Regions from separate parts of the Homo sapiens genome. Here region 2 is linked to region 1. The links come from fine-mapping of genetic effects on gene expression. A gene starts in region 1. The other region holds a variant in brackets. All regions are shown on one strand. Distances are between the middles of the regions. Region 1 holds the start of SYCE1 (synaptonemal complex central element protein 1). Region 2 has its middle 23 kb from the start of SCART1.

The links.
Region 2: its variant is fine-mapped to the expression of SYCE1 in thyroid (GTEx, PIP 0.93).

Annotation. Positions count from the first base shown.
Region 1 is chr10:133,560,471-133,572,870 of GRCh38, reverse strand. It overlaps SYCE1 (synaptonemal complex central element protein 1), which reads left to right and starts at 7,288. Exons shown (of 13, transcript NM_001143764.3): 1 at 7,288-7,414. The coding sequence starts at 7,342. It also overlaps the pseudogene SPRNP1.
Region 2 is chr10:133,470,266-133,482,665 of GRCh38, reverse strand. It overlaps the pseudogene OR7M1P. Among named protein-coding and RNA genes, the nearest start is that of SCART1, 23 kb to the right of the region's middle. The variant C/T (reference allele first, on the strand shown) is at 6,469.

The DNA.
Region 1 (12,400 bases):
ACAATATCCTGTGCATCCTCCATTTATGCAGATTTTCTTTTATATTCTTTAATAACTTTTTGATGTTCTCCACAGAGGTCTTTTACATTGCGGACTGTGGTGAATGGCTTTTTTTTTTTTTTTTTTTTTTGGAGAAGGAGTCTTGCTCTGTCACCCAGGCTGGAGTGCAGTGGCGCAATCTCAATCTCAGCTCACTGCAACCTCCACCTCCTGGGTTCAAGTGATTCTCGTGCCTCAGCCTCCCGTGTAGCTGGGATTACAGGCATGTACCACCATGACTAGCTAATTTTTGTAATTTTAGTAGAGACGGGGTTTCACCATTTTGACCAGTCTGGTCTCGAACTCCTGGCCTCAGGTGATCTGCCCGACTCGGCCTCCCAAAGTGCTAGGATTACAGGCATGAGCCATCGTGCCAGACTATGAATGGCTTTTTATCTTATATTTTTTAAAGCTATTTTTTGTTCTGGTAGAGAAATTCTACCATCTTTTAAATCTAAGGTATACATCTGGCTGCAAGTCTAGGGAGTACCTGCTTAATACAGGGATGAGATGTGAGACACCCAGCAGTGCAGAGTGGCAGAGCAGCACCGCCGTGTGCCGGGGACAACCCCACCCTCCACCCGCCTAGCCGCTGACCCAGCATCCTGGGGTCTTCCGATGTCAGGAGCCACCCTCGGCACCAAGTCCCACTCCCAGCAGGAAAAAGGGGGAAAGGACAATAGCACACAGGTTCTACGCAGCCCCTCTCCTTAGCGGGGACGGAGGCTCTCCCAGGAGCCCCCGACACCCTCAGTTGCAGGTTTCACCAGCTATGCCTATGTCCTGTGGCCTCTGCCAGCTGCAGCACTTGTGGTGGAATCAGGTCTCAGGGCTACAGCTGCAGGAGCCACCCCACCTTCCATGGTACAATCAGGTCTCAGGGCTGCAGCTTCAGGAGCCACCGTGCCTTCAACGTGCTGTGTTCTTCTTGGTGGCAGCTCTGCCAATGCTGTGTTAAACAGAAGCGGTGAAAGTAGGCAATCTTCTCATTGGTTCGTATTTTTAAAAATACATTTAAAAGCTCTCCACTACGTATGTCTTCTGAGATTAGCCTTTATCAAAGAAAACATTTCACTTCTATGATGAGTTTTCTCAACATGTTTCACCACAAACGAATGTTGATTGAAATCAAATGCTTTGTCTTTCTCTGTAGAAAACCGTATTTTTTGCCTTTGGTCCACTAATAGGTAAAGCACACTGACATATGTTATGACATAAAACCACCCTGAACCTGACCTGATCATGGTGATTTGCTTTCTGATGTGCCGCTGGACTCATTGTGCTGCTGCTTTATCTAAAACTTTCATGTCTCTACTCAAACATAAAACAGCCTAAATGTTTCTCTTGCGCTTCTCTTATACACCCTAAGATACATCCTATACATCTTAAGATAGAAGGCTTCTGGAATCATAAAATCAGCTGGAGCACCGCCTCCCCCTTCCTTTTCCCATTCTGTGTTCTCGGCCTTGGAACAACTGTTAGATGTTAGAGCCCAAAATGGATCCCCTGGGTCTATCCCCTTTTCTTTCATATTTGCTGCCTTTTTGCCAGAAACATTTCCTTAAATATACAATTCCATCCTTCTGTTGTTTTTTTTTTTTTTTTTTGCAGTAATTTTTTAATCTCAAAAGTGTCTTTTTTGTCTTATTTCATCTTCACAGTTTCCTGTTCTTATTATATAAATATATCTCCCTAATCTGAGTCTATGGATTGGAGTTTTATCCAATCCATTCATTCCAATGATTGGAATGATTGGAGTCATTCACATTTCTCAATCCATTTATTTTCCGTTTCTTTGCCTGGTCTTTCTTTTATGTGATGCAGCTCTCCTTGAATGTCTGATACATTTTCATCCTTTAAAATGAAGCCGATGGGTGACAGGAAGACGTGCTTCCATGAAAGGCAGTGTTTCACTCCGGAACCTCAGCTCCCGCACGCTGGATCCAGATCCACAGCATCCCCAGGACCTCTTCTCCCCTCTGGGTCCTGCCCCCATCTCACTGGCTCCCATCTCAGATTCCCTGTGAGGCTCCACGCTTGGCTTCACATGCAAAGTCTAGGGGTGAGGGGCCCCTCCCAGCCTCTCAGCTGGCAGTCCTGGGCCTGTGCTGGGAAACATGCCCTCCCCGCCCGCAGCCGGAGGAGCCGCATGGCTGTCTTGAGTGGAGGTCACACATCCCCTCCCAGGGCCAGGGGAGGGAACGGTCACAGATGTTCCTCATGAGCCAAAAATAAGCAAGGTCTGGCTGCGGTGCTGTCCACTGCCGGCTCCAGCACCAGGGGTTGCCCAAGAACCCCCTTGACTCCTTGGGGTAAGCAGCTCACTGCTGGCTGTCCTGTGTGTGATGGGGAAGGGGGACTCAACCCGAGTGTGCAGACCTATGATGACCCCCGCTCCCACCTCCACGTCCCATGGCCACGGCCCCTCCCTTCCAAGCTCCTTCTGCCTGATGGGCAGCACCCCCTCCCGTCTGGAGTCTGCCGGGGCCCTTCCTGCTCTCCTTGTTAATTTATTTTCTGTCTTGGAGGGAAGCTGGGTGCACCTGCTCAGGTGGCCCCCTAGGGCCAGAAGACCTGTCAGTCACTTTCAAATACATGTTCTTTCCAGCTCTTCCTTGCCAAAGGTTCTAAAAACACTGTTGTCCGTCTCACCCAAAAAGCTAAGCTTCTGTCCAATCCTTAACGGTAGCTATAAATGAGAAGCATAAGCTTGGTTTCCTTCTAACATCCGGCAAGTTAGAAGATAAAACGTATTTCTTCACTTATTCATCACATATTTGCAGGGCACCCCTACACGGGACAGCAGAGGTCCCAGGCCGGTGCTGCACCCGGAGCCAGGCTCGGAGCTGGCCGCGCGCCCTCAGCTGAAACTCACCGGAGGCGCGGCCGCCCTGGGCTGAGAAGACGCCGTCGGCCCAGGTGGCATCAGAACCCACAGGAGGAAGACAGCCAGCCCAGAAGGAGCCATGGGGGGCCTCTGGGGATCGCAAGGGTCGACCCCATCCTCCCTGAAACAAGGCCGGAGGTTGAGGAGGTCTCCGCCCGGCCCCGCAGCTGACAACCGGTGGAGAAACCGCACCTGCCACGGGAGGGGCCGCGGGGTGGGCTCGAGCCACCATGGGGCTGGTACAAGCACCCTCTCCGCTCAGGACCTCGGCCCTCATCCCAGGGCACCAGGGCTCACAGGGGGATGGGCCCGGGTGGGGACGAGGGTGTGGAGGGGCAGGAAGCACGGCGGGTGGAGCGGAGCCGGGTGCGGGGGTCGCGGGGGACCGCGGGGACGGGGCCTTGTGATGCAGGAGACGGAGGGGGCTGGTGACGGAGGACGGGAGGCCGCAAGGATGGGGGACGCGACATCCTTTTCCCCTCCCACCGGCTCACCAGGGATGCGCCTCCGCGACTGCCCGCCCCAATCCCAGGGCGGAGGCCTCGCGCAAAACCCAGGCGCCGCGGCTCCGCGCTCCGGCTGAGGGTCCGCGCCGCCGCCCGCCCGCTCCTTCCCGCTCGGCCGCGGCCTCAGGGACGGATACTCCAGCGCGCGGTTCCAACCGAGGCCCGTGGCGGGTAAGGCCGGGAGGCTGGGGCGGGTACGGGGCCGGGAGCGAGGGGCGGCGCGGGGAGGGGATGCAGCTGTCGCCCGCACAGCCGTGTCTGGACGCGGCCCCGCAACTCGACCCCGTCCCGCCCCCAGCCAGCTGCTGAACTAGGCGGCCGGGGACGGCATTGAGCGCTGGGCGCGCGCGGGAGGGACTGTCCCTGGGGCACGGGTCTGCTGGGGCGGAGTCCGCACGGTGTCAGCAGCCGCTTGTCCTCCGCAGCATCCGCAAGGCCCGCACCCAGGCTTTGGCCCCAAAGGTGGGGACCAGGCCCAGGCACGGCCCGTCCCCGTTCCAGACCCTGATCTGAGCCAGCTCTTGGTCCCGGCTACCGCGTCCTCCAAACACAACGCCCCTCCCCCCATGCCGCCTCCCCCCGCCCCCCACATCCCAGCAACGCGTGCAGAGCTCCCTCCCCCAGGCTTGCTCCCCCGCCCGGGCCTGGACGCCCCCAGAGGCCTGAACGCTCCTGCCCCGCTTCTACACCCCCAATCCAGGTGCACAACCTTCAGGTGCAGAACCCTCCTGCCCCTCCTGCCCCACCTGCCACTTCCCAGCGCCTCCCCCAGGCCTAAGTCCCTGATGCTAGAGGTTAAACCGCGCCCCCCCAGGCCTCAGTGGGCCTCCAAGATGCTGGGGGCACCCTGATCCCACAAAAGATGGGGGTCCCTCTGCTCTCCAGCCTTGAGCCCTCCGCCTCTGGGCACCCGATCTCCATGGAAACTAAGGGCCCTTTCCCTCTCTTCCCGCAGGTTTAGCCCCATGAAGATGAACTGGGCACCCGCGAATGGCTGGGCTCTGCTACAGGAGGCAGCCTTCCTCTGCGTGCGGCCGCGGAGGGCTCCGCGGGGGCTCGAGAGGGGCCTCGAGGGTGTGTGTGAGGCCGGCGCTGTGCTATGGTGCCCCGGGCTCCTCCCTGCGCGTGGCTGCGGCCGGGGCGGCGGGCTCAGGCTGGAGAAGGGCCGCGGGACCCGGGGAACGCGGCCTGGAGGACGAGGAGGACTGGGTTCCCGGAGGCAACAGGACCGGCTCGGCATCTACAGCTACTGTACGTGGACTTCGGGCGCTGGACCCACGGGCGGCCTGTGCCTCTGTGTCGGGCTGGGTGGCGCCCTCAGTGCCCTGGGGCTGCTGCGGCCCTAGGCCTGGCTGGGCTCGGTGACCACATCTGGCCCCCGGGCCGCACCGTCCCCCAGGATCCTCCGGCCTGGGCTCCCCCTTCCTCCCTTGCCCACAGTCTTGGAGCCCCAGTGGGTGCAGGAGCTGCTGGCTGCCCCTGTGGACCCGCCATCCACCGTCCTGCCCATGCTGCCTCGCCATCCACCTGCCTGCCCACGCCGCCTCAGCCTCCCACCTCCCACCTAGAGGAGACCATGGGCCCTGCCCCACCTGCTCCAGGATGTTAGGGTCCCCTCAGCCAAAAAGGCAGTGGCCTGTGGCTCCTGTACCAACAGCCCAGCCACACTCCAGAGCCGCCCAAAGGGAGGTGCCAAGGCCAGGAACCCAAGCCACCCCAGCTCCCCATGCCTGCCCAGGGGCCGTGGTAACCCATGGACAGGGAGGTGACCTCAGGCTGGTTCTGCCACTGAGGCCCTGAGGAATCAGGCCCTCCCCAAAAGAAGTAATGAAATGGACCAAAGGACTTAAGAATTTGGGGGGAAGTAAGGGGAAAACGTTAGGTGCTAACCACCTGCCCAGAAGAGTGGATCTCACAGCCCAGGAACATTCCCAAGCAGGAAAACCATCCGTCCAGGAACCCTAACCCTAAAACTAAGCACAACCCCTACCCCTAACCCCTGACCCTAACGCTGACCCTTAACCATAACCCTTAACCCTAACCACTAACGCAAAACACTAACCCTTAACCCTAACCCCTAACACCTAACCCCCACCTCAAGCACTAAACCCTAAGCCTAAACCTTAACCCTAACTGCTAACACTAACCCATAACCCTAAGCCCTAGCCCCAACCCTAAACTTGACCCTGAACCCAAGCCTCCAACCCAACCCCGACACAAACCCCTAACCCTAACCCCTAATTCTAGCCCTAATCCCTAAATCCAACACCAACCCTTGACCGGACCCCTGACCCCTAACCCTAACCTCAACTCATAACCTCAACCCCTACTCCTACACCTAACCCCTACCCTAATGCTAGCCATAAACCTAACACCCAAACCCAAACTCGAACCTATGCCTACCCCTAAAACCCTAGCCCGAACCGTAACCACAAATCCTAACACACAACGCTACCCCTAAACCTACCACTACCCCACCCCAAACCCTGACACCGAACCCTGAAGCTAACCCTAACAACACTAAGCCTAACCTGCAACCCTTAACCCAACTGTAACTCCTAATGCTAACCCTAACCCTAACCCTAACAACACTAAGCCTAACCCCTAACCCTTAACCCAACTGTAACTCCTAATGCTAACCCTAACCCTTAACTCTAACCCCTTACCCTAAACTGTAACCCCTAACCCTAATCCCAACCCCAACACGTAACCCTAACCCCTATCCCCTACCCTAAAACCCTAACCCTTACAAACCTTAGCCAAATCCCAAACCCTAACCCCCACCCCTGACCCTAATCCCCTAGCCCCCAAACCCTAACCCCAATACCCTAACCCCAACACTAAAACCCTGACCCTAACCGTAAAACCCTACCCCTACCCCGACCCTAGCCCAACCCTAACCCTACCCCAATCCTTCCCCTACCCCTAACACTAACCCCAAACCCTAATTCTAACCCCACTCCTAACCCCAAAACTAACTTCTAACCCCTAAACCCTAACCCCAACCCCAACTCTAACCTTAATCCCTAGCTCTAATCTGTAGCCCTAACCCTAAACCCTAAGGTAACCTTTTATAGGTTAGGATTCGAGGCTTCGTATTTAGGACAGGCAGGTGTTCTGATGTCTCCCACTCACCTGCACGGTAAAGTTCTTCCCCTGGCTCTTCACAACCAGTCGCGATGCATCGCGGCCTCCCCTGGCCGGTGAAGGGCTGGGTTCTCCCGAAAGCCTCTGCTCCTCCTCCCTCCTCCCAGGGCCCTCCGGGCCTCCACGGTGGCCCCAGCGCGGCAGGGACCGTGCAGAAGGGACCGTGGGCTTGTGGCCGGCCTCGGCCACTGTGGGCATGGAGCTCACGGGAACGCGGCCTAGGGGCAGGCTACGCTCCTCTGCGCGCGCAGGAACAGCGGGCCCAGCGGGGGCTGCCGCAGATTTCACTCGCTGGGGCCCGTGCACTCCCGCGGCGGTGTGGTCCCGCAGAGCCGCAACCTCATGAGGCTGCCAGGGCCACAGCGCCTTGTGGAGTCGTCATCCGTCAGACACGCACACTTCACAGGAAGCTTCGGCGCTACACATGCGTACTGCTCGTTGGTGGGGAGGGCCTCCAGAACCAGGGCCGGTCCCCTCGGAAGCCAGCGCACATGCGCGGGGGCACCCGGCAGCGGGCCAATCGCAAGCCTGGACGGCCGCACGTGGCCCTGGCGGGCTTCCCGCCGCGTTTGTAGCCCTCGCGCCTTTACGCATGCGCACTAGTGCCACGCAGGCCTGCCGGAGAATTACCTCACATCTCCAGGCGCGCGCAGGAGTGCATTGCGCAGGCGCGCTGCCTGGAGTCCTGCCCCCAGCGGCGGTTGCTCCAATCACCACTGGAGGCTCCCTCCCGAGGCACCCTCGCTGGCGAGCTGAGAGGAAATGGCGGGGAGGTCCCTGACATCGAAGGCCGAGCCCACCGCAGGAGCCGTGGACAGGGCTGAGAAGGCCGGAGGTAGTGGTGGGAGGCAGGGAACTGTGCGTGAGGGTCTGACCTCGCCGAGGCGGGGCAGGGTTGGGGCGCGGGTGGCGGCTGCTTCTTCCTGTCAGTCCTGATGCTGCTGATTGAGACTTAGCGGGTTTCTTCAGAAAAATTTCGGCCAAGATGAGGGAGTGCTTGCCCGCACACCCCCCACTTTGTCTTAAAGCATTGAACTGTTATCATAGTTGCTCCAATTTTGGTTTAGGTAATTAGTCAAAAGACATCCCTTCCCGTTGTCCCACAGACTTTACATACACACCTCTTAAAACAAAAAGGATATTTTCCTGACGCTCCCAATCCCAAGGGAATTCCTAATTCCACCTTCCTCTCCCTAGAACCAGCAAGTGTCCAGATTTCCCAGTCGCACTAAACTGGTTCTTGACAGTGGGGCCCCCCACCCAGCATCCCGACGCCCCGGGGAGCCGGGGGAGGCCGACTCCACGCAGATCCCCCGTTTGTTTCTCCCTGACCCCGACCTGCCATAGTGGCTCCTACCTCACCCTGGGAAGGGAGGGGACAGGCAGCTGGTCAGAGTTGTACAGAAGTCCAGAAATTGCAGCCCAACAAAGAGAAAGGACACTGTCCTGGCCGTTTCCACTTCAGGACACTGTGTGCCTCTGGGTGTTCTGTGAGGATTTTCAAACTTACAGAAAAGTGGAGAGAATTGTACGGTGACGTCCCTCCTGCTGTCACTCAGCTTGTCATTCTGTCCTGAGATCATCTGTCCCCCTTGAGTTAAAACTCTGCAATTAACAAACGTCGGTGGCTGCCTCCAGCCCTACCTGCGTGAATGCCATGGCAGGTGCTCTGTCATGTTCTTACAAAATGAAGGTTTGAATACTGAAACAAGCTTAGCACAGAAAGCATCCCTACAGTGAGATGTGGCACAGTGAAAGCCCCAGCGAAGGACAAAGCAAGTAAACAGGACAGACGCAAACGTATCCCTTTCATTAAGCACCTGCTGGCCCGCCGGTGTGCTAGCCTTTCAGTATCATGGCTCCATGTTCCTCACATAACCTAGTATATTTAGGTAAGTTTTAACCAATGTCGCTTGTGCCTTAGTTCAAACTGCTACAACAGAAATGCCTTATTTCTCACAGTTTTCGAGGCTAGAAGTTCAAGATCAAGGTGCAATTCAGCGTCTGGTGGGGGCCTGCTTCCTGGCTATAGACTTCTGTCTTCTCATTGTGTCCTCATGTTGGGGAAGTTGCTGCAGACCTCTCTGGTCTTATAAGGGCACTAATCCCATTGCTGAGGGCCCTACTCTCATGACCTAATCACCTCCCAAAGGCCCCACCTCCTAATGCAGTCACACTAGGGGGTTAGGATTTCAACATACGAACTATGGATGGGGGCACAAACATTCTATAGTGACCAGCTACAGAAGAAATTTAAAGGACAAGATTCCAGTTTTAGTCTATCTGTTTTAAAAAGGAAGCAGGGATGTTATCTAGGGTCAGTGACACTAGATACATTTTAGTAAAAAGTCTATTAGTCTTCACCTAACTGGCTGCAGTTATTACTAGAAAGGGGAATGACTGGGGAAAGGGAATGTTGGTGTTTCAATTTTTTCTTCATACTTTTTCACACATGCCAATTACTTGAATAATTTAAAACTTAATGCAAAAATTTATGAGCAGTAATTTGTGTAAGATTTCAGGTGGGACCAAAATGAGGGGACTCCATAAACTCAAAAATAAGCATTTCACAAAATTTTATGCTTGATTTTTTTTTTTTTTTGAGACGAGATTGTGCTTTGTTGCCCAGGCTGGAGTGCAGTGGTACAATCACTGCTCACTGCAGCCTTGACCTCCTGGCCTCAAGAGATTCTCCCACCTCAGCCTCTTGAGTAGCTGGAATCACAGGTACATGTCACCATGCCCAGATAATTTTTTTAAATTTTTTATTTGTAGAGAGAGGGTCTTGCTGCATTGCTCAGGCTGCTCTTGAACTCCTATGCTTGAGCAGTCCTCCTGCCTCAGTCTCCCAAAAGTGCTGGGATTATGGATGTGAACCACTGAGCCTGGCCTTATGCATGTATGCATGATTTTTAATGGCTGTAAATGATTTCATCCTGTGTATGTGCTATAATTTATTTAACAAATCCCCTAAGGCATATTTAGGCTTCTTCGAGTTTTTCACTATTATAAACAATACAGTGATGAACACCTTGCCCATTAGCCATATCCAGAATTACTTAGGACATAGTCTTAGAAAATAAGATGCACCCAAACTTTTGATATTTACTATCAGAAAGTTTGTAAGGAGACACCTTAATTTTGCATATCTGGTTGACAAAGATAAACACGTTTGGAAACATAGGTGATTGGTAAAAATGAAAAACTGGGCATCTTGTATACATCAGTGTAAGGTAATTTGGTATTGTCAATCAAAACTGTTACAAACTTTGGTCAGGTGCCTCTGAGCCTTCTCAACCGTGCCTCGGCCTTGGCCTTGGCCTGTGATATGGTTTGGATCTGTGTCCTCACCCAAATATGTTGAATTGTAATCCCCAATGTTGGAGTTGGGGCCTGGTGGGAGGTGGTTGGATCACAGGAGACCAATTTTATTTAGATAGTGACTACCTATCTTTTAACTGGATCTCTGAGCTCTGGGAAGAGGCCACACTGAATCCTGGGTCTGCAAAAAGGGAGAATTATTATGAGGCTCGACCACATGGATGCTTTTACAGTGTACTTAAAAAACATTAAAAAAATATTTCTAAGTGTCTAAAATATACTCTTCCTTAAAAATGCAGGAGTAGCTTCTGTTGCAATAATTAATAAACAAAAAAATCAGGTAACACAATACAAAAGCAAACAGTTTAGGAGCTGACATGAACTTGTGTGTTTACACTCTTGGGGATACACAAGGAAAAACAATTTTCTCCACAAAAGGGAGTCTGGTGCCTTCTCCATTTTCTTTAAGGAACCTCAGGCTATTATAAACTATTTTAGGTCCCTCATGCAGCAGAGCGTTCAAGGGAAAGGAGAGACAGCAGAACTATATGAAGAAAATAGCATTCAGTCAACTGAAAAGAAAAAAAACTTTTGCCCAAAAAACACAAGGTCCTAGGAGAGAGAAAAAAGAAAAATCATGAAGCCCTTTTAAATACACACACACACACACACACACACACACACACACACACACACACACACACACACATTGGATGTTAGCTTTTAATTAAGATGACTTTTAACCATTTGAGTTTCTTTTTAAAAAATTTTTAAGATCTCATCAACATATTTCAGCTAGGACAAATATCTGCTATTTCAGAAGTACCAAGTATCAAACCAGAAAGGTCTTGATTTAGGAACCAAACCCAGGCTGTCATGGAAAAAAGAAGACAGAACCTTAGCTATGGAACTGCAGTTGGGGTGACAATCCTTTCTCTTTCAGTTTGGCCTGGCTAGCAAAAAGGTGGCCTTGTTATGTAAATAAATCCCCTTAAGTAGTCAAAATCAAAAATCTTCCCCCCCTTTTTTCCTTTTGCTGGCTGTTTTTTCTTCCCCCACCACCCCTTTTCTGGTGGGAATTTAGCCACTTCAGAGGCCTTGTTCCACATAATTTGGAACTTTCCTTTGGATTTGATCAAGTCAGAATTGGCCAAACCCAATAGGAAAAGGACCAAAACAACAAAAACAGAAAGAAACAACAACAAAAAAAAATACCAGTTAAGCAAAACAAACAAATGATCACACAACTTGTATGGTTACTGGACACTCTAATGATAAGGAAAAATTAAGACCAGCTGGTTGTTAATTTTACCTTTAGCCAAGACAAACCCCAATTCAGTTACTTACCTAGGGATGGGTCTTAGGCTGAAGACTGCTCTCTATCATCTTAGAAGCAGGAAAAAAACCCTCAAACTTGTCTTCCCTGTTGGGAGCGAGTTCAAACTCCAGAAAGGAACTTTCATGGAAGCAGGAAAACTTGCCTTCCTTGTTGGAAGCAAGAAAAACTCCAAAAAAAGAGTAGAGTTGTTTAGAAAAATAAACTTTGGATCTGGAGCGAATTTTGGGAAATGAGGGATTCCCTGGATGGGGGACTTCCAGAACTCAGCAACTTGTCATATTAGTTTGAACCATAAAGATAGCTCAAGCTGCTAGCAAGCACTGATAGGATATTTGTCAAAGGTCAGGGGCACCTCTACTCAGAATCCCTTTGTGGTTGCCAAAATGTGAAACCCAAAAATCTGAGACAGGTCTCAGTCAATTTAGGAAGTTTATTTTACCAAAGTTAGGGATGCATGCCTGTGACACGGCCTCAGGAGGTCCTGATGACCTGTGCCCAGGGTGGCAGGGTGGTCAGAGCACAGGTTGGTTTTATGCTTTTTAGGGAGACATGAGACACAAATCAACATATGTAAGATGAACATTGGTTCGATCTGGAAAGGTGGGACAACTCAAAGCAATGATGAGACAACTTGAAGCAGGGGGGTTTGCTTCAAGGTCATAAGTAGATAAAAGACAAATGGTTGTATTCTTTTGAGTTTCCGATTAGCCTTTCCAAAGGAGGCAATCAGATATGCATTTATCTGAGTAAGAAGAAGGATGACTGAATTATTTTCAGATATTTATTTTACAAAATCAGATATGCATTTATCTCAGTGAGCAGAGGGATGACTTTGAATTGATTTATTTTCAAAGATTTATTTATAAAAAGATTTATTTTCCTTTCACAATGTTAATGCCATAAATAGTAATTTCTTAGATCTACTAATTTTAGTGTTAAAAATAGGTTCCAATAGTGATTATAAAAAATTAACATGAAATATTTTATGGGGAAATTTCAGGGTTAGTATTGGTTGTATGTAGGAAAGCTTGTTTGTATTTATATATGTTTTTAACCTAACATCTTAATGCATTTTGTTACTAATCCTTATGGTTTTGTAGAAAACTCTCTAAGAACTTCCTAGATTATGTCATCTGCCAGTTACAGTGATTTTTGACTCCT
Region 2 (12,400 bases), 90 kb after region 1:
CAGATGCTGGGAAGAGTGTGGGGGAAGGGGATGAACAGAGGTTGTTAAGGGGTACAAACATACAATTAGACAGAAGGATCTGATCATCACACACGGGTACCCGATTTGATCATCACACATGGGCACCTGATTTGATAATTACATTACTCAGCAAACGTACACCCTTATTTATGCATTTTGTTGTTTGAAAATATTACCTTAAAAGGAAAAATAACTATAAACAAATGTTTAATGATATGCACGCAGAAGTATTTAAGAAGTGAAATGATGTTTGCAACTGGCTTTGAAATGCATAAAATAGATGGATTGGTGATGGACACAAGGATAATCAATTAAACAAAGATAATAAGTTAATGACAGAATGTAGGTGATTGGTGCATAAATTAAAGAATGAGAATGCCCTTCTCTGAAAGGAAGTAAATCAGTAAAGCCCCATGTATTTCCTGCAGGTCATTAAAAAGAAAGGCTGGATAACCCCATCTCTCACCCTTTATGGTGCCAGGACCACGAAACCTCACACAGGGAGGAGAGCATTTCTCATGTTTTCCTTGACCTCACACCAAGAGGAGTTGGGTTGGAGAGTCGGGGTTTGGGTGATTTTCTCCAAAGCAGGATATCAAGAAATGCCCCCACCCCGTCAACATAGACCAGGCAGTGTGCACAGTGGGCATATGTGACTCTCGACCCATCCCCGGGCAAGAACCCCTGACTAAACGAAGACACGGCCAGCGGCACCCCCAAGGTGAATGCTCCCACATTGCTCCTGGGACCCAGTTGCCAGTGAAAGGGAGTCAAGCAGGTGCATGGGGTGTCGGAGGGTGTTAAGTGGCCCTTTTGGGCTCCTGCTCAACTAGCCGCTGGCCCTCCCTTAGCTCCCTGCTGCCTTGTAGCCCTGACTGCACCTACCCATACAGCCTTGGGATGTTGGGAGTTCCACATTGAATGATGGCAGCCCCGTGCGGGAGCACATTATTTATAAATATGTGGCATTAATTACTTTCTTGTTCCTTGCTGCTTGCATGAGATTCTCAAAGTCATATGTTGAAATTAGTTTGTTAACACCTGGAACATTTCACACTAGAAACTTCCCTTCCTTTTACCTGATGCAAGAAAACACTCTCCTCAGTGCTACTGATAAGTCCTTGTTCCGCAGGGAGTAGGTGAGGGGTTCAGGGTGGGGCTGACCACTGTGTACAGCACAGCCACCACTCTGCTGTTGTCCATGGATGTGCAGACGATGTCTAAAAGGGCCAGGTTGGTGAGAAAGAAGTACACTGGCGTGTGGAGGCCTGGATTCAGACTGATGGCCATGACCATGAGGATGTTTCCTACAAGTGCCATCAGGTAAAGGAGGAAAAAAGCAAAGCAGCAGCCCTGGAGTGGAAGGTCTTCAGAGAAACCCTGCAGGACAAACGCCTCTACGCTGTGTGGTTGTCTGCTGCCATTAGGAGCGCGAGGCCCTCAGGGGTCACTGGGCACAGCTAGTGCCACCAGCCCAGGAACAGGGTGGCCAGGCGACCTGTCCTCTTGCTCGCCGTCCTGCTGAGACTCTCTGGGACCTGTCCGCTTGCTCGCTGTCCTGCTGAGACTCTCTGGGACCTGTCCTCTTGCTCGCCATCCTGCTGAGACTCTCTGGGACCTGTCCGCTTGCTCGCTGTCCTGCTGAGACTCTCTGGGACCTGTCGGCTTGCTCGCTGTCCTGCTGAGACTCTCTGGGACCTGTCCCCTTGCTCGCTGTCCTGCTGAGACTCTCTGGGACCTGTCCCCTTGCTCGCTGTCCTGCTGAGACTCTCTGGGACCTGTCCGCTTGCTCGCTGTCCTGCTGAGACTCTCTGGGACCTGTCCGCTTGCTCGCTGTCCTGCTGAGACTCTCTGGGACCTGTCCGCTTGCTCGCTGTTCTGCTGAGACTCTCTGGGACCTGTCCCCTTGCTCGCTGTCCTGCTGAGACTCTCTGGGACCTGTCCCCTTGCTCGCTGTCCTGCTGAGACTCTCTGGGACCTGTCCCCTTGCTCGCTGTCCTGCTGAGACTCTCTGGGACCTGTCCCCTTGCTCGCTGTCCTGCTGACACTCTCTGGGACCTGTCCCCTTGCTCGCTGTCCTGCTGAGACGCTCTGGGACCTGTCCGCTTGCTCGCTGTCCTGCTGAGACTCTCTGGGACCTGTCCCCTTGCTCGCTGTCCTGCTGAGACTCTCTGGGACCTGTCCCCTTGCTCGCTGTCCTGCTGAGACTCTCTGGGACCTGTCCCCTTGCTCGCTGTCCTGCTGACACTCTCTGGGACCTGTCCCCTTGCTCGCTGTCCTGCTGAGACGCTCTGGGACCTGTCCGCTTGCTTGCTGTCCTGCTGAGACTCTCTGGGACCTGTCCGCTTGCTCGCTGTCCTGCTGAGACTCTCTGGGACCTGTCCGCTTGCTCGCTGTCCTGCTGACACTCTCTGGGACCTGTCCGCTTGCTCGCTGTCCTGCTGAGACTCTCTGGGACCTGTCCCCTTGCTCGCTGTCCTGCTGACACTCTCTGGGACCTGTCCGCTTGCTCGCTGTCCTGCTGACACTCTCTGGGACCTGTCCGCTTGCTCGCTGTCCTGCTGAGACTCTCTGGGACCTGTCCCCTTGCTCGCTGTCCTGCTGAGACTCTCTGGGACCTGTCCGCTTGCTCGCTGTCCTGCTGACACTCTCTGGGACCTGTCCCCTTGCTCGCTGTCTTGCTGAGACTCTGGGACCTGTCCGCTTGCTCGCTGTCCTGCTGAGACTCTCTGGGACCTGTCGGCTTGCTCGCTGTCCTGCTGAGACTCTCTGGGACCTGTCCCCTTGCTCGCTGTCCTGCTGAGACTCTCTGGGACCTGTCCCCTTGCTCGCTGTCCTGCTGAGACTCTCTGGGACCTGTCCGCTTGCTCGCTGTCCTGCTGAGACTCTCTGGGACCTGTCCCCTTGCTCGCTGTCTTGCTGAGACTCTGGGACCTGTCCGCTTGCTCGCTGTCCTGCTGACACTCTCTGGGACCTGTCCGCTTGCTCGCTGTCCTGCTGAGACTCTCTGGGACCTGTCCCCTTGCTCGCTGTCCTGCTGAGACTCTCTGGGACCTGTCCGCTTGCTCGCTGTCCTGCTGACACTCTCTGGGACCTGTCCCCTTGCTCGCTGTCTTGCTGAGACTCTGGGACCTGTCCGCTTGCTCGCTGTCCTGCTGAGACTCTCTGGGACCTGTCGGCTTGCTCGCTGTCCTGCTGAGACTCTCTGGGACCTGTCCGCTTGCTCGCTGTCCTGCTGAGACTCTCTGGGACCTGTCCGCTTGCTCGCTGTCCTGCTGAGACTCTCTGGGACCTGTCCCCTTGCTCGCTGTCTTGCTGAGACTCTGGGACCTGTCCGCTTGCTTGCTGTCCTGCTGAGACTCTCTGGGACCTGTCGGCTTGCTCGCTGTCCTGCTGAGACTCTCTGGGACCTGTCCGCTTGCTCGCTGTCCTGCTGAGACTCTCTGGGACCTGTCCCCTTGCTCGCTGTCCTGCTGAGACTCTCTGGGACCTGTCCCCTTGCTCGCTGTCCTGCTGAGACTCTCTGGGACCTGTCCCCTTGCTCGCTGTCCTGCTGAGACTCTCTGGGACCTGTCCGCTTGCTCGCTGTCCTGCTGAGACTCTCTGGGACCTGTCCGCTTGCTCGCTGTCCTGCTGAGACTCTCTGGGACCTGTCCGCTTGCTCGCTGTCCTGCTGAGACTCTCTGGGACCTGTCCGCTTGCTCGCTGTCCTGCTGAGACTCTCTGGGACCTGTCCGCTTGCTCGCTGTCCTGCTGAGACTCTCTGGGACCTGTCCGCTTGCTCGCTGTCCTGCTGAGACTCTCTGGGACCTGTCCCCTTGCTCGCTGTCCTGCTGAGACGCTCTGGGACCTGTCGGCTTGCTCGCTGTCCTGCTGAGACTCTCTGGGACCTGTCCCCTTGCTCGCTGTCCTGCTGAGACTCTCTGGGACCTGTCCCCTTGCTCGCTGTCCTGCTGAGACTCTCTGGGACCTGTCCCCTTGCTCGCTGTCCTGCTGACACTCTCTGGGACCTGTCCCCTTGCTCGCTGTCCTGCTGAGACGCTCTGGGACCTGTCCGCTTGCTCGCTGTCCTGCTGAGACTCTCTGGGACCTGTCCCCTTGCTCGCTGTCCTGCTGAGACTCTCTGGGACCTGTCCCCTTGCTCGCTGTCCTGCTGAGACTCTCTGGGACCTGTCCCCTTGCTCGCTGTCCTGCTGACACTCTCTGGGACCTGTCCCCTTGCTCGCTGTCCTGCTGAGACGCTCTGGGACCTGTCCGCTTGCTCGCTGTCCTGCTGAGACTCTCTGGGACCTGTCCGCTTGCTCGCTGTCCTGCTGAGACTCTCTGGGACCTGTCCGCTTGCTCGCTGTCCTGCTGACACTCTCTGGGACCTGTCCGCTTGCTCGCTGTCCTGCTGAGACTCTCTGGGACCTGTCCCCTTGCTCGCTGTCCTGCTGAGACTCTCTGGGACCTGTCCGCTTGCTCGCTGTCCTGCTGACACTCTCTGGGACCTGTCCGCTTGCTCGCTGTCCTGCTGAGACTCTCTGGGACCTGTCCCCTTGCTCGCTGTCTTGCTGAGACTCTGGGACCTGTCCGCTTGCTCGCTGTCCTGCTGAGACTCTCTGGGACCTGTCGGCTTGCTCGCTGTCCTGCTGAGACTCTCTGGGACCTGTCCGCTTGCTCGCTGTCCTGCTGAGACTCTCTGGGACCTGTCGGCTTGCTCGCTGTCCTGCTGAGACTCTCTGGGACCTGTCCCCTTGCTCGCTGTCCTGCTGAGACTCTCTGGGACCTGTCCCCTTGCTCGCTGTCCTGCTGAGACTCTCTGGGACCTGTCCGCTTGCTCGCTGTCCTGCTGAGACTCTCTGGGACCTGTCCCCTTGCTCGCTGTCTTGCTGAGACTCTGGGACCTGTCCGCTTGCTCGCTGTCCTGCTGACACTCTCTGGGACCTGTCCGCTTGCTCGCTGTCCTGCTGAGACTCTCTGGGACCTGTCCCCTTGCTCGCTGTCCTGCTGAGACTCTCTGGGACCTGTCCGCTTGCTCGCTGTCCTGCTGACACTCTCTGGGACCTGTCCGCTTGCTCGCTGTCCTGCTGAGACTCTCTGGGACCTGTCCCCTTGCTCGCTGTCTTGCTGAGACTCTGGGACCTGTCTGCTTGCTCGCTGTCCTGCTGAGACTCTCTGGGACCTGTCGGCTTGCTCGCTGTCCTGCTGAGACTCTCTGGAACCTGTCCGCTTGCTCGCTGTCCTGCTGAGACTCTCTGGGACCTGTCCCCTTGCTCGCTGTCCTGCTGAGACTCTCTGGGACCTGTCCGCTTGCTCGCTGTCCTGCTGAGACTCTCTGGGACCTGTCCCCTTGCTCGCTGTCTTGCTGAGACTCTGGGACCTGTCCGCTTGCTCGCTGTCCTGCTGAGACTCTCTGGGACCTGTCGGCTTGCTCGCTGTCCTGCTGAGACTCTCTGGGACCTGTCCGCTTGCTCGCTGTCCTGCTGAGATTCTCTGGGACCTGTCCGCTTGCTCGCTGTCCTGCTGAGACTCTCTGGGACCTGTCCGCTTGCTCGCTGTCCTGCTGAGACTCTCTGGGACCTGTCCGCTTGCTCGCTGTCCTGCTGAGACTCTCTGGGACCTGTCCCCTTGCTCGCTGTCCTGCTGAGTCGCTCTGCGACCTGTCCGCTTGCTCGCTGTCCTGCTGAGACTCTCTGGGACCTGTCCCCTTGTTCGCTGTCCTGCTGAGACTCTCTGGGAAAGTTTGCTGTTGGCAACTTTGCTGCAGAAAGCACATAATTAAGATGTTAACATGGGTCCCTGCGCCCAGGGAGAATCAGAGCATTAACCCTCCACTCTGCGAGGGAGTCAACAAGCCCAGCGTCACTCACCCCCGAGGACAGTGCTCCCTGCCGGCCTGCAGCGGGGCTGGCATCACAGTAAATAACAAAAATGCAGCAAGAGCCTCTCATTGCTTTGATTTTAAACATTTCCTCCATTATTCCAGCACACAGAAGCTCGTGGTGTGCAAGTGTGTTTGGCCCCCGAGGCAGGTGGAGACCACATCAGTGACCTGGGCACAAGATTCTGGGTCGCGGAGAAGGAAAACCACCCAGCAGGCATGGGCTTTATGGAGAGTTAGCGTCAGGACAGCACAGGTTTCACCTGCAGAGGCTGTGAGGGGCACTCTCCAAAGGGAGGCATGTGGGGACATCAGGGCAGTGAGTGGCTCCAACTACCACCAGGCCAGACTCCAGCTCTTTTGGCCAGGTGACCTCAGCTGTCAGATTTCAGCTGTAGGTTGACCTGGCCACAGCTCCTTAGTAGAAACCATGACTGCGGCCCTACCTCAGCCACCCCAGGCCGCTCCCTCAGGAGGGCAGACTCCATGCAGAAGCGGGCATGGACTGGCCATTCCTGTTCCTGGTCTGGGTGGGAGGTTTGTTCCATCAGGGGGTGTCAGGCTGTGTCCGAGACTGGATACAT[C/T]AAAGAAAGGCACAGACCCAGCCTCGGTGCAGCCCCTAATCCAGTGCCTCCACTCAACCAACCTCACATACCTCTCCCACCACCCATCTCTGACCACCTAGCCTCCTCGGGCAGGACAGGCCCAGCCCAGGGCAAGGAGAGGCGGCTTAGTCAACATCAGAGGAAACAAGGCCAAACCCACTTCCTTCCCAGCCCAGGAGGCACCCAGCCCAGGTAGTCTTCAACCCAGGCAGCCTTCAGCTGCAGTCCTCAGCCCAGGCAGTCCTCAGCCCAGGCAGTCCTCAGCCCAGGCAGTCCCCCCAGCCCAGGCAGTCCCTCAGCCCAGGCAGTCCTCAGCCCAGGCAGTCCCCCCAGCCCAGGCAGCCCTCAGCCCAGGCAGTCCCCCCAGCCCAGGCAGTCCTCAGCCCAGGCAGCCCTCAGCCCAGGCAGTCCCCCCAGCCCAGGCAGTCCCTCAGCCCAGGCAGTCCTCAGCCCAGGCAGCCCTCAGCTCAGGCAGTCCCAAAGACCTCCTGGCTGCCCAGTCTGAGGCCCGAAATCCATCCTCCATCACAGGAGCCCCATTTGCCTGTGAAACCAAGGGCAGGTGGAGCCTTGCACCAGATTCACAGGAAGCTTCCAGGCCCCTCTTACAGATCCTGATCTGCCTTAAAGGCCAAACCACGGGGCTCCGGCTTCTTGCTCACCTGATCGAGGGCACAGATAGGGCACAGTGCAGGCCCACAGAGGTTCCCAGGCACTTAGAGTTTCAAACGGAAACCCTCAACACAACAGCAAAGCAATTTCAGCAACATTTTTTCCACATTAATGTAGGTCAGGGCAGGGTAGAATCAGATCTGACTTTTCAAAAACATTGAAAGGAAAATTAGGTGGGTCATCCATGTGGAAGGCAGGCATGGAGGGTTGCAGCCACTCACTGAGTGAGGAGTGTGGCTAGGCCAGCTCCTGTCTAAATGGGAGCCCACATGTCCATGGACATGATGGTGCCTCAAGGCTGACGCCCGTCTCTTCCCAGTCAGTGTCTCCTGTGTTTGATGCTGACCTTTGAGTGAAGTCTGTCCCCTCGGGGTGGATGCTGAGGTTGCTACAGAGGCCCACGTGTCCCCAGGAGCGGCTCTCAGGGAGCAATTACCCCACTCGGAGGTAGAAAGGGGTCCCCATGGGAACCGCCCCCAGGCTCGAGCAGAGACAGGCCAGGGCACCTGCAGGGCTTCTGGGTGATGGACCTGGGGAGATCAATTCCAGAGCTGGTGGCTTCTCCCCAGCACCTCTGCCCTGGGCACACAAGGGCCATGTGCAACCCTCCCTGCAGGAGGATGGAATTTTATTTAAATAGACTTAATCTTTTAGAATAGTTTTAAATTTGCCCCCACCCAGTTTCCCGTTACTGACATCTCCCATTAGCATGTGTTACATTAATGTGCCAGTATCGATCCTATACTGTCAACTGCAATCCATGGCTGATTCCCAGTTCCTCCGTGTTCCCCTAACGTCCTTCTGTCCACATCACAGTTAGGAGTTTCCTTAGGCTTCTCTTGACTGCAGCATTTTCTCAGACTTTCCTTGCTTTTGATGAACTTGGTAGTTTTGGAGAATATTGGCCAGGTATTTTGTATCTTCCAGGTATTCCCTTGACTGGGATTCGCCTGATTATTTTTTTACTCATGATGAAAGTTACGGGTTTTGGGGCGGAAAGACACAGAGGCACGTGACATTCTCATCACACCACACCGGGATGCACACTGTCAGCATGTCTGGCTGTTGATGTGAACTCGGGAAGGTAAATATTTTCATCACAATTCTTATGTGCCCATCCAGACGCTGAGGTGGCCTGCAGTGTCCAGGGAGACACTGTCCTGACTTCAAGGATGGAGCATCCAAAGGGTCTGAGGAGACTAAGAGTCTTCTGGCAGGCTGAAGCCCAGACCCCCACTCTGCACTCAGCAGGCCTGGCCACGTAGATGAGGCATTGTGAGCCCATGGGGGTTGACTCACTTCCTTGTTTGGGCCAAAGGCCCACAACTGATTGGTAAAGCAGTGTAGGTGGTCACAGCAAGTGCCCACAGGTAGAACTGAGATGATAATTGTGCTCAGGAGAAACCTAGCAATTTATCTTAGAGACCAAGTGCAGAAAATAAGACATGGAGAAAACAGTCATTGCAAAAGAACCAGAGACGTGGCCATGGCTGATTTAAAGTGCTTCTTAATTTCATCACAGGAAGACAACTGGCCCCTTTAATTTTCCAAACCTTCTAACATCCTTCAACTCAATCAATCGGCACATGTTTTTAATCTCTGGCCAATGATTATCTATTTTCCATGACAGTATATGTAATAGCATTTCAGCAACCCAAGATTTGAACACTTCCTCTAATTTATTCAAATGTGTTATAACCTTCAGCTATGCCGGATTTTCCTAATCAAACACACCACTTTTCTTTAAAAATAATGTTGATTTATAAAAACATTCAGTATCAAAGGTCACTGCAACACTGATTTAAGGTTATTTCATGGCCCACAATAAGTAACCATATTTGTAGCATTTAAACCTCAAAATCCAAGCTAAGTGGTAAGATGTGGGAGCACCTGCTACATACCTGGAATTGTCCTAGGGCTACGGGGATCCTCAAAGCCCAATGAGAGTCCCTCATCTTCCAACGTTTTGGGATCCTCAGGCAGCAGGGCCATCCCCAGCAAGACTCAGCAGGTCTGAGCCACCTGACCACCGTCAACCAGGCACTCCCTGGGGGACCCTGTGCTCAGCCTATGGGAAACAAGCTAAGCAAAGGAGCTTCTTCAACTCTGGGGTCGGTGAGACACCCACCAACAATTAGACACAGGATGTTCCCTTGGGAGGGGTCTCTGTATTCATCTGTTCTCACACTGCTATAAAAAAATACCTGAGACTCTGTAATTTTTAAGAAAAAAAGGTTTAATTGGCTCATGGTTCTGCAGGCTGTACAGGAAGGAGAGTGGTATCTGCTTCTGGGGAGGCCTCAGGAAGTTTCCAGTCATGGTGGAAGGTGAAGGGGGAGCAGGTGCCTCACATGGCAAAAGAGGAACAAGAAAGAGGGGGAGACACCACACTCAATGACCAAATCTCAGGAGGGAGATGCCACACTCAACTGAACACATCTCAGGACGGAGACGCCACACTCAACAACTTACATCCCAGGAGGGAGACGCCACACTTTCCACTGACCAGATCTCAGGAGGGAGACACCATACTCAATGACCAGATCTCAGGAGGGAGACGCCACACTCAACGACCAGATCTCAGGAGGGAGACGCCACACTCAACGACCAGATCTCAGGAGGGAGACGCCACACTTTCCACTGACCAGATCTCAGGAGGGAGACGCCACACTTTCAACTGACCAGATCTCAGGAGGGAGACGCCACACTTTCCACTGACCAGATCTCAGGAGGGAGACGCCACACTTTCAACTGACCAGATCTCAGAAGGGAGACGCCACACTCAACGACCAGATCTCAGGAGGGAGACGCCACACTCAACTGACCAGACCTCAGGAGGGAGACGCCACACTCAACTGACCAGATCTCAGGAGGGAGACGCCACACTCAACTGACCAGATCTCAGGAGGGAGACGCCACACTCAACTGACCAGACCTCAGGAGGGAGACGCCACACTCAACTGACCAGACCTCAGGAGGGAGACGCCACACTCAACTGACCAGATCTCAGGAGGGAGACGCCACACTCAATGACCAGATCTCAGGACGGAGACGCCACACTTTCAACTGACCAGATCTCAGGAGGGAGATGCCACACTCAACTGACCAGACCTCAGGAGGGAGACGCCACACTCAACGACTAGATCTCAGGAGGGAGACGCCGCACTCAACAACCAGATCTCAGGAGGGAGACACCACATTCATCACCGTCTAATAATTTTGCTAAAATTCTCATTTTTTCTACATACTATTCTTTTCAGTAAAGTTAATTCATTATGTGTATAATTACTAAGCTAATATCTTTAATTTTTTAAGACTTTACACAAATAAACTCATAAGTAAGGAGCCCTCCTTTGTCAGCTCACACAGGCTGGTGATGGTTTAGGCAGTCACTCACCATCATCCTATCCAATCTGCTGCTAACCCAGAAGTTCCAACTGTGCTGATTTTGCCCCCAGGAAACATTTGGTGACGTCTGGAGACATTTTTTTATTGTCACAACTGGAAGGGGGCTGCCACTGGTGCCTGGTGGGTGGAGGCCAGGGATGCTGCTCAGCACCTGTGATGCACAGGATGGCCCCACGCAGAGAACAACCCAGCCCCAAGGTCAGTAGCGCCAAGGCTGGGGGCTGCTCTGCTGGCACGTGGACTCTTAACACTGAATTGTCATAGCAAATGCATTCTCTCCCCAACTCTCCAGCCCCACACGGCTGGGGCAGACACACCTCCCTCTGCCATTTTCCTCTCCAGGACACCTCTTCCCACAGGCCTGGGTGCCTTTGATACTTCCTAAGAGCCAGAGCCTCCCAGTCTCCCAGACTTTGCTCCTGCCCCACAGCCTCTTGGGCAACATCTGAGCCGCCAGCCCACCAAGAGCAAAGATCAGCAATGGCCCAAAGTACAATGGGGGCCGCTGTCAGGGTGGGGTCCCCTGTGTGCCCAATGGGACACCTGGCTCAGCTCTGTGAGTCTTGTGGGGAGACAGCCCAGAGGGAGGAAGGTGCTTAGTGTGGCCTGGCCCCCAAGCCCACATCTGGACCTGGCTGAGGCCATCCTGCAGGACTTGATTGAACACTTTCTTCCTGTGTTCCTGCTGTGGGGAGGACCCCTCAGTACCAGGGCCACAGTTGGAAAGGACCACCCCAGGGGAGCTCATGAGAATGCTCAAAACTCAAACAACCCAATAAAGCATGAGCAAAAATGTTGAACAGACACTTCAACAGAGTACATATACAGATGGCAAATAAACACATGAAAAGGTGTTCAATATCATTAGTCCTTAGGTAAATGCAAATTAAAACCACAAGGACACAGCACCATATACCTGTTAGAATGTCAAACGTTATCAACCGAGTGTTGGAACCTTGTGGAGGAAGCAGAACACTCAGAGATTACTGGGGAGATGTAACATGATGCAGCCACTCCAGAAAGGTTGGTAGAATGTTAAACTTGCACGTACCTTACAATCGTTCCATTCCTAGGTAGCCAAGAGAAATGAAAGCACGAGTCCATATGACGACTGGTACATGAATATTTGTAGCAGCTTTTTTTGCAATAGCTGGAAGCTTTAAGCAATGCAAATGTCCATCAAGTGAACAGGTAAACAGCACAATGGAGCGCTATTTGCCAAGAGGAAGAAATGAACTATGGTTTCTCACCACATGGATGAATCGCAAGTAATTGTGCTGAGCGAAAAAAGCCAGACTCTCATCCCCGAAAAAAGAGTACATACTATATAATCCATTTACATAAAATTAAAATAGTGCAAACTAGTCTACAGTGTCAGAAAGCTGAACTTTATCACCTGAGGGGCAGGACACAGGAAGGGACAGGACAGATGTTCAAACATACATGAAAAACGTTGGGGGCGATGGATGCGTCCATTCTCATAGACGCTGCGATCCTTTCAGGGGTGTACGTGCATGTCAAAACTTATTGCAATGTATTCTTTAAATATGTGAAGTTTATTATATGCTAATTATACCCCCATAAACCTATTAAAACAAAATCACAACATATCAAAACTCTTGGAATGCAGCCAAAGCCATGCTAAAAGGGAAAGTTATAACCTAAAATATATGCATTAAAAAAGAAAAAATGCTGAATATCAACAATCTGAATGTCCATATAAAAAAGCTAGAATAAGCAGAAGGAAATCACAAAGATGAGAACAGAAATAAACGAATTAGAAGGCAGATGTTCACCAAGAAAAATCAAGAAAACCAAAGGCACAAGCTCC